Homo sapiens: one gene and its partner. The protein of the gene in region 1 purifies or fractionates together with the protein of each later gene. This does not show direct contact. Each region holds a gene or a part of one and is shown on either strand. Other genes may lie near its edges. The genes, in order: INTS9 and WDR73.

Region 1 (3,811 bases):
TAGGTTCACGGCAATCATATGCCCCTGCCCCACACACGCAGTTGCCCACTGCACCATCCCACACCAGAGAGGTGCGTTTGCTACGGCTGATGAACCCACATTGACACGTCACTCTCGCCCAAAGCCCAGAGTTTACAGTAGGGGTTCCCTTGGCGTTGTGCTTTCTATGGTTTTGAACAAATGAACAGTGACCTGGATCCACCATTACATCATCACACAGAGGAGCTTCCTCACTCTGCAGATCCTCTGTGCTCAGCCTGTTCATTTCACTCTCCACGAATCCCTGGTGACCGCTGAGCCTTTTACTATCTGTATAGTTTTGCCTTTTCCAGAACGTCATACAGTTGGAATCATAGGGGCCTTGGCTTTTCAGAGTGGCGCCCTTCACTTAGGAATAGGTTCCTTCATGTCTTTTCGTAGCTTGGCAGCTCATTTCTTTTTTAGGGCTGAATAATATTCCATTGTCTGGATGCATCAGTTTCATCCTTCACCTGCTGAAGGACACATCTTGGTTGTTTCCACGTTTTAGCAATTAGGACATTCATGTGCAGGTTTCTTGTGGACATGATTTTTCAAAATATCTTTCAAAGTGGCTGTATCCTTTTGCATTCCCACCAGCAGTGAATGAGAGTCCTTGTTCTTCCATATCCTTGTCAGCATTTGGTGCTGTGAGTGTTCTGGATTTTGGCCATTTTATTATAACAGGTGTATAGTGGTATCTCATCATTTTAATTTGCAGTTTCCTAATGACATACGGTGTGGAGCATTTTTTCGTATGCTCATTTGCCATCTCTCTTCTCTGATGAGGTGTCTGTTCAGGTTTTTTGCCCACTTTTTAATAGGGCTGTTCATTTCTTTTTGCTGAGGTTTCGGAGTTCATAGATTCTGGGTCACAGTCCTCTCTCAGGTGTGACTTTTGCAGGTATTTTCTCCCAATCCGTGGCTTGTCTTCTTTGTTGGTATTTTAGATCCAGTCCCGCTCACCCTCCCGTACTTTGGTTCCCCCTTCAGCCTGGGCAGGCTCACATTTCTTTGTATTTTTTCTATATTTTCCAGCTCATTCAGACCAATAAGCTGAAGCACTACCCCAGCATCCACGGAGACTTCAGCAACGACTTTAGACAGCCCTGTGTGGTGTTCACCGGGCACCCTTCCCTCCGCTTCGGGGACGTGGTCCACTTCATGGAGCTCTGGGGAAAATCTAGTCTCAATACCGTCATATTCACGGGTAAGTGAAAAAAATAAAGAAACAAATTGGTTCTCTCCACTGAGGCCATGAGTGAATGCACCTACAAGGTAGAGACCCAGGGAAGGATTTTGCAGTGAGACATAAATACAAACATTGTTCTACTGTAGGTACCAAAGAATGAAGAAACCGCAGAGAAAGAGTGAAGCAGTGTGTGCCATTGGACAGCTGGGCATCCAGCGAGGCCTTCATGCCTGTGTTTTCAGATTTCTCCAAGACAGAATCCTGCTGAGTGCTTTTGCTAGGATATCGTAAGCCATTTCAAGAAGTGCAGTGATTCAGTAACGGTGTTGTTTTACCTGTTAGGAATTGTTTACAGAGGTAGATCTTTTTCTTCTGATTGTGGTTTACTCTAACTGTGGATTTTCTTCTGGAGACAAATCCCTCAGGGGAAAAAATTCCTTTGATAAGGTCAAGTAGAGTGTTTACATAGATAATGACTGTATCATTTTATCAGTGTAGCGTGCCCAGCCCTTTGAATGCTAGGTCTTTTTTGCTTATCTGTGATAGGGGATATCTTGGAAATTATGCACAGACCTTTTTTTTTTTTTTTTTTTTTTTTTTTTTTTTTTTTTTTAGCTCATCAGTCATCATTAGTGTTAGTGTATTTTATGTGGGGCACGAGATAGTTCTTCTTCCAGTGTGGCCCAAAGAAGCCAAAAGCTTGGACACCCATGGGTTAGGGTCTTCAGTCGGCCTTGGGTTTTAGAAATCTTACAGGCTATGAAGAAAAAAGAAAAAAAAAAAAAAACCTTGATTTGAAATCTGGCCCAGCTTGCAGCAACCTCAGCCAATTCACCAGCAAGCATGACTGTCCCCACAGTAAATGGGACTGTCAGTAGCTACCTCTGTGGGTCACTCTGGGCACCAGGCACAGAACCCGGCACATGGCGGCTGTTGGGAAAGCACTGTCACCAGCTCCCTTCCTAGCTTTAGGAGCTGGGAATCCAGTTACACCAGAAGCACTGGGGTGACGCTTCAGCCCTTCCCCCAGCTTTCATTTGTGACCTAGAGGCCACCAGGAACACGCCTGTGGTCAAACCAAGTTGGGTTTATTGCCTCATTTCAGCAAGGGGAACACACACCATGGGTAAAAGAAAAGCAAAAAGACCTTGCAGGACTCCGGCTGGTGTTCGGTGATGCGCAGGTGTTCGCGGAGGTGAGGCGTCACCCTGTATTGGGTGGCGTCAGGATGCAGGGTCATTCTGCGATGGGTTTCTTAACTCATTCTTATCTAGAACACAGGAAGAATGGAGCCGGCATAGCGGGAAGTTTGCTTATGCTGTGGTCAGGAAAGTTCTGTGTTCCGTGTTCAGGATGATTACAGAGGGGTCTTGTCTTTGGCCGGATCCATCATTGTCAGACAAGGTGTTGGTGTTCCAGGAAGTTGCGTTCACACAGCAGGAGGACACATGGCTTTGCTGTGGGTGCCAGGCCGGCTCTTGCTGATACCAGGCCAGGCAGAAAGTGCCAGGAGAGGCCCCGGTCACCAGGACTGCTTTCCTCTTCTCAGGCCTGCTTTGGGCTAAAGGTGGAGGAAGTTGGGCCACAAGATATTGATTGACAACACCCAGAACTTCATAGCTGCCAAGATTTCATTAATTAGGAGGTTGTCCAGAGAATGTCCTATGTAGTGGGGCTGAGGTTGGTGTCTCCTGCTCCTGCTGCTGAGTGGTGACTCGACATTTGACATGACAGTGGTGACAGCATCTACACAGCACAGTAGATAACCTGGCCTTTAGTACAAATGTTTCTTCAGCTAAAAGGAAATCAGGACTGTGTGATTTCCTGTGACAACTCTGGGTAATGGGTTTGCATTTAAACTGGTTTATGGGGCTTCCAGGGCAGAAGTTGTGTCTGGGAGAGGTTGGGGCCATCTTTTTTTATTGTTTTGTGACTCCTGGATACATGAAAAGGGGGTCAGTATTCTCAGAGAAGCACAATCCACTGGAATGGGCATTTATGTACCTGGCAGCTCTGCCAGTTTGTCCTGACAACAGTGGAGACGTCTCTGTGTCTGGTGTGCCTAAGCCAGGGTCCCTCGTCGCTGGGCACAGACTGTGCTGGGAATCAAAGTGTCACATCAGTTAGGACCGAGCGAGGTCTTTTGGCTCAAGGCAGGCAGCTCCCTCGAGTTGGGGGAATGTTCCCTGCCAAGCAGGCTGCAGCAGCCCTCAGGAGACAGGCTGAGCAGAGGGCGAGGACTCTTCCCGGTCTGAGGGGCTGGGGCTGCTGGGGAGCATCCCAGTCTCAGTCTACAGACCATTCACGGGCCTGGAGGCGGGGCCGTGCGCTTGTCTTCCGGGTGCATCTCACACCTGGGCGTTAACTCAGAGCTGATTCTAGGTTCCCGGGTCTGTACCAGGCCTCTCCACTGTGAAGTCAGTTTTTCCCATTGTATTAAATCAGTACCTTGTGGGGGACTCTTTGAAACTATATACATATTCTGTTCTCCCTCAAAATGGTATCTGATATTTTTAGCATTTGTTGATGATTTTCATCTGAATAAGTGATGAACTGTAATGGTTGCCAAACGGTGGTTTTGGTTTTTATTTCATCGTTTGT
Region 2 (3,811 bases), on another chromosome or scaffold:
TTCAAACCTTTTCAAGTTGCCCCAGAGTCCAGTCCCCTACCTCTGGGTCCCTTTCAGCAGATGGCCTTGTCTCCTACTCGATGGGGGAAACAGAAGCCTTTGGAGAGAAATACCTTCACGTCCCTGCACGATCTAGCTGCACACACACTCATTCCATCCTGCCATCTTCCTGGTACTGAAGAGCCAGCCCCTCTACCTGAGCTTGGCTCTTCTGTTCTTTCTGGATCCTGGCATTTCCAATCATCCTTTCTTGCTCTCTTAATGATTTTTTTCAACCCCCACCTGCCTCGACGGATCCTTCCTGTTGGCTTTTAGATACCCACATTAAGTGCCGCAAGCAACTAGCTACCACCAGACCAGAACCAGGGGCCTGCTGACCTAGCTGGCTTGCTACTTTTTTTTTTTTTTTTTTTTTTGAGACAGAGTCTTGCTCTGTCGCCAGTCTGGAGTGCAGTGGCGTCATCTCAGCTCACTGCAACCTCTGACTCCCGGGTTCAAGCGATTCCCCTGCCTCAGCCTCCCAAGTAGGTGGGACTACAGGCGTGCACCAAAACACCCGGCTAATTTTTTTTATTTTCATAGAGACGGGGTTTCACCATGTTGGCCACGATGGTCTCGATCTCCTGACCTTGTGATCCACCCGCCTCGACCTCCCAAAGTGCTGGGATTATAGGTGTGAGCCACCGCACCCGGCCAACTTGCTACATTTCAAAAGGCAAGTAGGCTGAGAAGTACCCTTGAGGTGCTGTCCCTGCTGCTTTTTTTTTTTTTTTCTTTTTTTTTCTTTTTGAGACAGTCTCGCTCTGTTGCCCAGGCTGGAGTGCAGTGGTGCAATCTCAGCTCACTGCAAGCTCCGCCTCCCAGGTTCACGCCATTCTTCTGCCTCAGCCTCCTAAGTAGCTGGGACTACAGGCGCCTGCCACCATGCCTGGCTAATTTTTTGTATTTTTAGTAGGGACGGGGTTTCACCGTGTTAGCCACTGTCCCCTTTTCTTTCTGACCCAGCCCGATGTCTGTCCCAGTGTCTTACTGTCTGCAGGCCCCTCCACCAACCTGAGACCTGAATTCCTGCTAGGCTAGGAAAGGCCTGCTGCCAATGTGTGGAAGTTTAGTAGCCAGGGTAGGAAAAGGCCTGCCACTGAAGAACCTGGAGAGTTCGAATTTCTCTGTGAGCAACTTTAACTCCTGGAGCCAGGTTTATCATGGTGCTGGAGGCTCCTTCCTGAGCACCCAACAGTCTCCTGGAAGAAAGAGATCAGATAACAAGACGAAATCCTGCTCGGCAGTACCTGAGATGGCCAAGCAATTCTTCAGGCCTGGGGCCCAAGTCACTCGCAGCAGCTCTGGGTCAGGGCTAGGTACGGATACTGGGCACTGGACTGAGCTCACAGGATGGCAGAGATCCCGGGGGTCAAGAAGACAAAGACGCCCATCTGAGCCAAGGCTGGCAATGCTGGGCCCAGGGCCCTGGCCCCAGCTCCCAACTTCAGCACACCATCTCTCTCCACCAGACCCAGGGCCAGGGCTGCGATTCTCCAACGGTGCCCACTTCTGCCGGGTGTCAACAAGCCCCAGCCGGCCTGAAGCACAGCAGAAGGCAAAGGTGTCTGCATCTAGGACCTGCAGGCTACTCAGCTCCTCACTGTCACTGACATCTGGAAGACCGACAGCAAAGGAGACAAGCGGCTGGAGGCAGATGGGTCTGGCAATTTGGCAGGGCTGGCTGGTCACAGGTCCCTTCCCACCAGTCCCAGGCAGAATAAATCACATCTCCCTTCCCACTCATCTCACCATTGTCTGCTCAGCTGGTTGGGTGCTGGTCCCTGGGACTGCCTAATCCTGCCCCAGCATAGGAGCCCTTAGAGGCCAGGGCTTACCTCTTATTCACTGTGTATCCCCAACACCTGGCACAGAGAGTTGAACTCAGTTTTTATAGTGGCTGAGTTGGGCTGGGGGGTGATGCCGGCTGGAGCAGCAAGCAAGGGACAAAGTACCACGGTACCTGAGGTGTACGTGGTCTTCCGGGACTCCAGATCAACGACCTGCAGACTTCGGAGCCTCGCCCCATGGAGGACTCCGGGTGCCAATGTGGAGAAGACGGCCACCCTAGGCCAGAGACTCTCCTCTTTCTCATGCACAGCAATGGTGCTGACAGCTTTAATGACATCTAGGGGAAAACGAAGAGGCCAAAATCCAGAACTTTAATGAAGGTTTGAAACATGACAGGCTGCCAGCTGTCTTCCCCTGTACATTTAGAAGATCAAGGAAGAAAAGGAGCTGCCGGCTGGCAAGAGATGATGTTGAGACATAACTACTCTGGCTTATGTTTACATTTTTGAAACCATCAGAAACATTTCAATTTCTTTATTATTTGTCTTATAAACTGTTTTTTGCAAATGGAAGACAATGCCATCTCAAAACCCAAAAAGCAATTCTGGCTTTTTATACTTTTGTGGAGAACAGGTAGAAGACAAGAAAAGGAATGAACATGCTGCTGATGTCACTTACCCCTTCAGCGACAAGAAACAGGTACAGAATTCATGAACTGATATTATTTCTTCAAAAACATGTTCCATGACCTCGAGTGACTTGCTAAAGCCTAGCAAGTACAGGTCACATTACAGATGTCATTGTCTTGTAAGGTGGACAAGAAAGTCCACATCTTTTTTACACTGAATGGAACATCCTTGGCTTTGAGTCAAGTTTTGTTTTGGTTCTTTTGTTTTTTTGAGACAGAGTCTCACTCTGTTGCCCAGGCTGGAGTCCAGTGGCACAATCTCAGCTCACTGCAGCCTCCGCCTCTCAGGTTCAAGAAATTCTTCTGCCTCAGCCTCCTGAGTAGCTGGAATTACAGATGTGCACCCTCATGCCCAGCTAATTTTTTTGTATTTTTAGTAGAGACGGGGTTTCGCCATGTTGCTCGGGCTGGGCTCAAACTCCTGGTCAGGTGACCCACCTACCTTGGCCTCCCAAAGTGCTGGGATTACAGGCATGAGCCACTGCGCCCAGCCAAGTTTTAGTTTTTATTTGGTTGTCTCCACCTGCTTGGTTAGCAGGGAGGTTCTCCTCTCTGTATTCTACATCTGAGGCTTCTCTTAATATATGCTTAATGCTGCCAAAGAGGTGAGCTCACCTGAGCAGCCTAAGCTCTGCTGTTGCCACTGCCCCTGCCTAGGGAGAGTAGTTCTCTGGATGAACTCAATTCCAGGAGCAGGTTACAGGAAGCTCCATTTGGGGCTTGGATGCCATGCTATGGTTGCTAATTCACCTTGTCTGCATTAAAGTAGATTAATTCCCACCTGGCTCTGAGTCTACTACTACTTTTTTTTTTGGAGACGGAGTTTTGCTCTTGTTGCCCAGGCTGGAGTGCAGTGGCATGATCTCGGCTCACTGTAACCTCCGCCTCCCAGGTTCAAGCAATTCTCCTGCCTCAGTCTCCCCAGTAGCAGGGATTACAGGTGCCTACCACCATGCCCGGCTAATTTTTTGTATTTTTAATAGAGACAGGTTTCACCATGTTGTACAAGGTGGTCTTCAACTCCTGAATTCAAGTGATCCACCCAGCTCAGCCTCCCAAAGTGCTACAATTACAGGCATGAGACTGTCCCCAGCCTGAGTCTCCTTCTTAACTGGCTCAGATTAGGGGACAGGGGTGTATGAGTCACACTTTCCTAGAACCCCAAACCCCATCAAGTCAAATTCACTCACCACTGTCCTCTGCAACCTGCCACACCTGCAGATAACAACCTGGAAGGCCACTGGTAACCAGCAATCTATTCAGAAAAGACAAAATCAGTCCAGACCATGGGGA

Evidence for each region.
Region 2: the proteins of INTS9 (region 1) and WDR73 purify together in Homo sapiens (affinity purification with mass spectrometry; one large-scale study listed by BioGRID and IntAct). This does not show direct contact.

The regions. Positions count from the first base shown.
Region 1 is NC_000008.11:28,778,240-28,782,050, reverse strand, and holds part of INTS9 (integrator complex subunit 9), read left to right. Parts: intron 1-1,056; coding exon 1,057-1,228; intron 1,229-3,811. UniProt on the Homo sapiens protein: Component of the integrator complex, a multiprotein complex that terminates RNA polymerase II (Pol II) transcription in the promoter-proximal region of genes.
Region 2 is NC_000015.10:84,644,182-84,647,992, forward strand, and holds part of WDR73 (integrator complex assembly factor WDR73), read right to left. Parts: intron 3,774-3,811; coding exon 3,709-3,773; intron 2,168-3,708; coding exon 2,003-2,167; intron 1,905-2,002; exon of another isoform or gene 1,792-1,904; intron 1,656-1,791; coding exon 1,290-1,655; intron 1-1,289. UniProt on the Homo sapiens protein: Component of a multiprotein complex required for the assembly of the RNA endonuclease module of the integrator complex. Associates with INTS9 and INTS11 in the cytoplasm, stabilizing the INTS9-INTS11 heterodimer and blocking the active site of INTS11.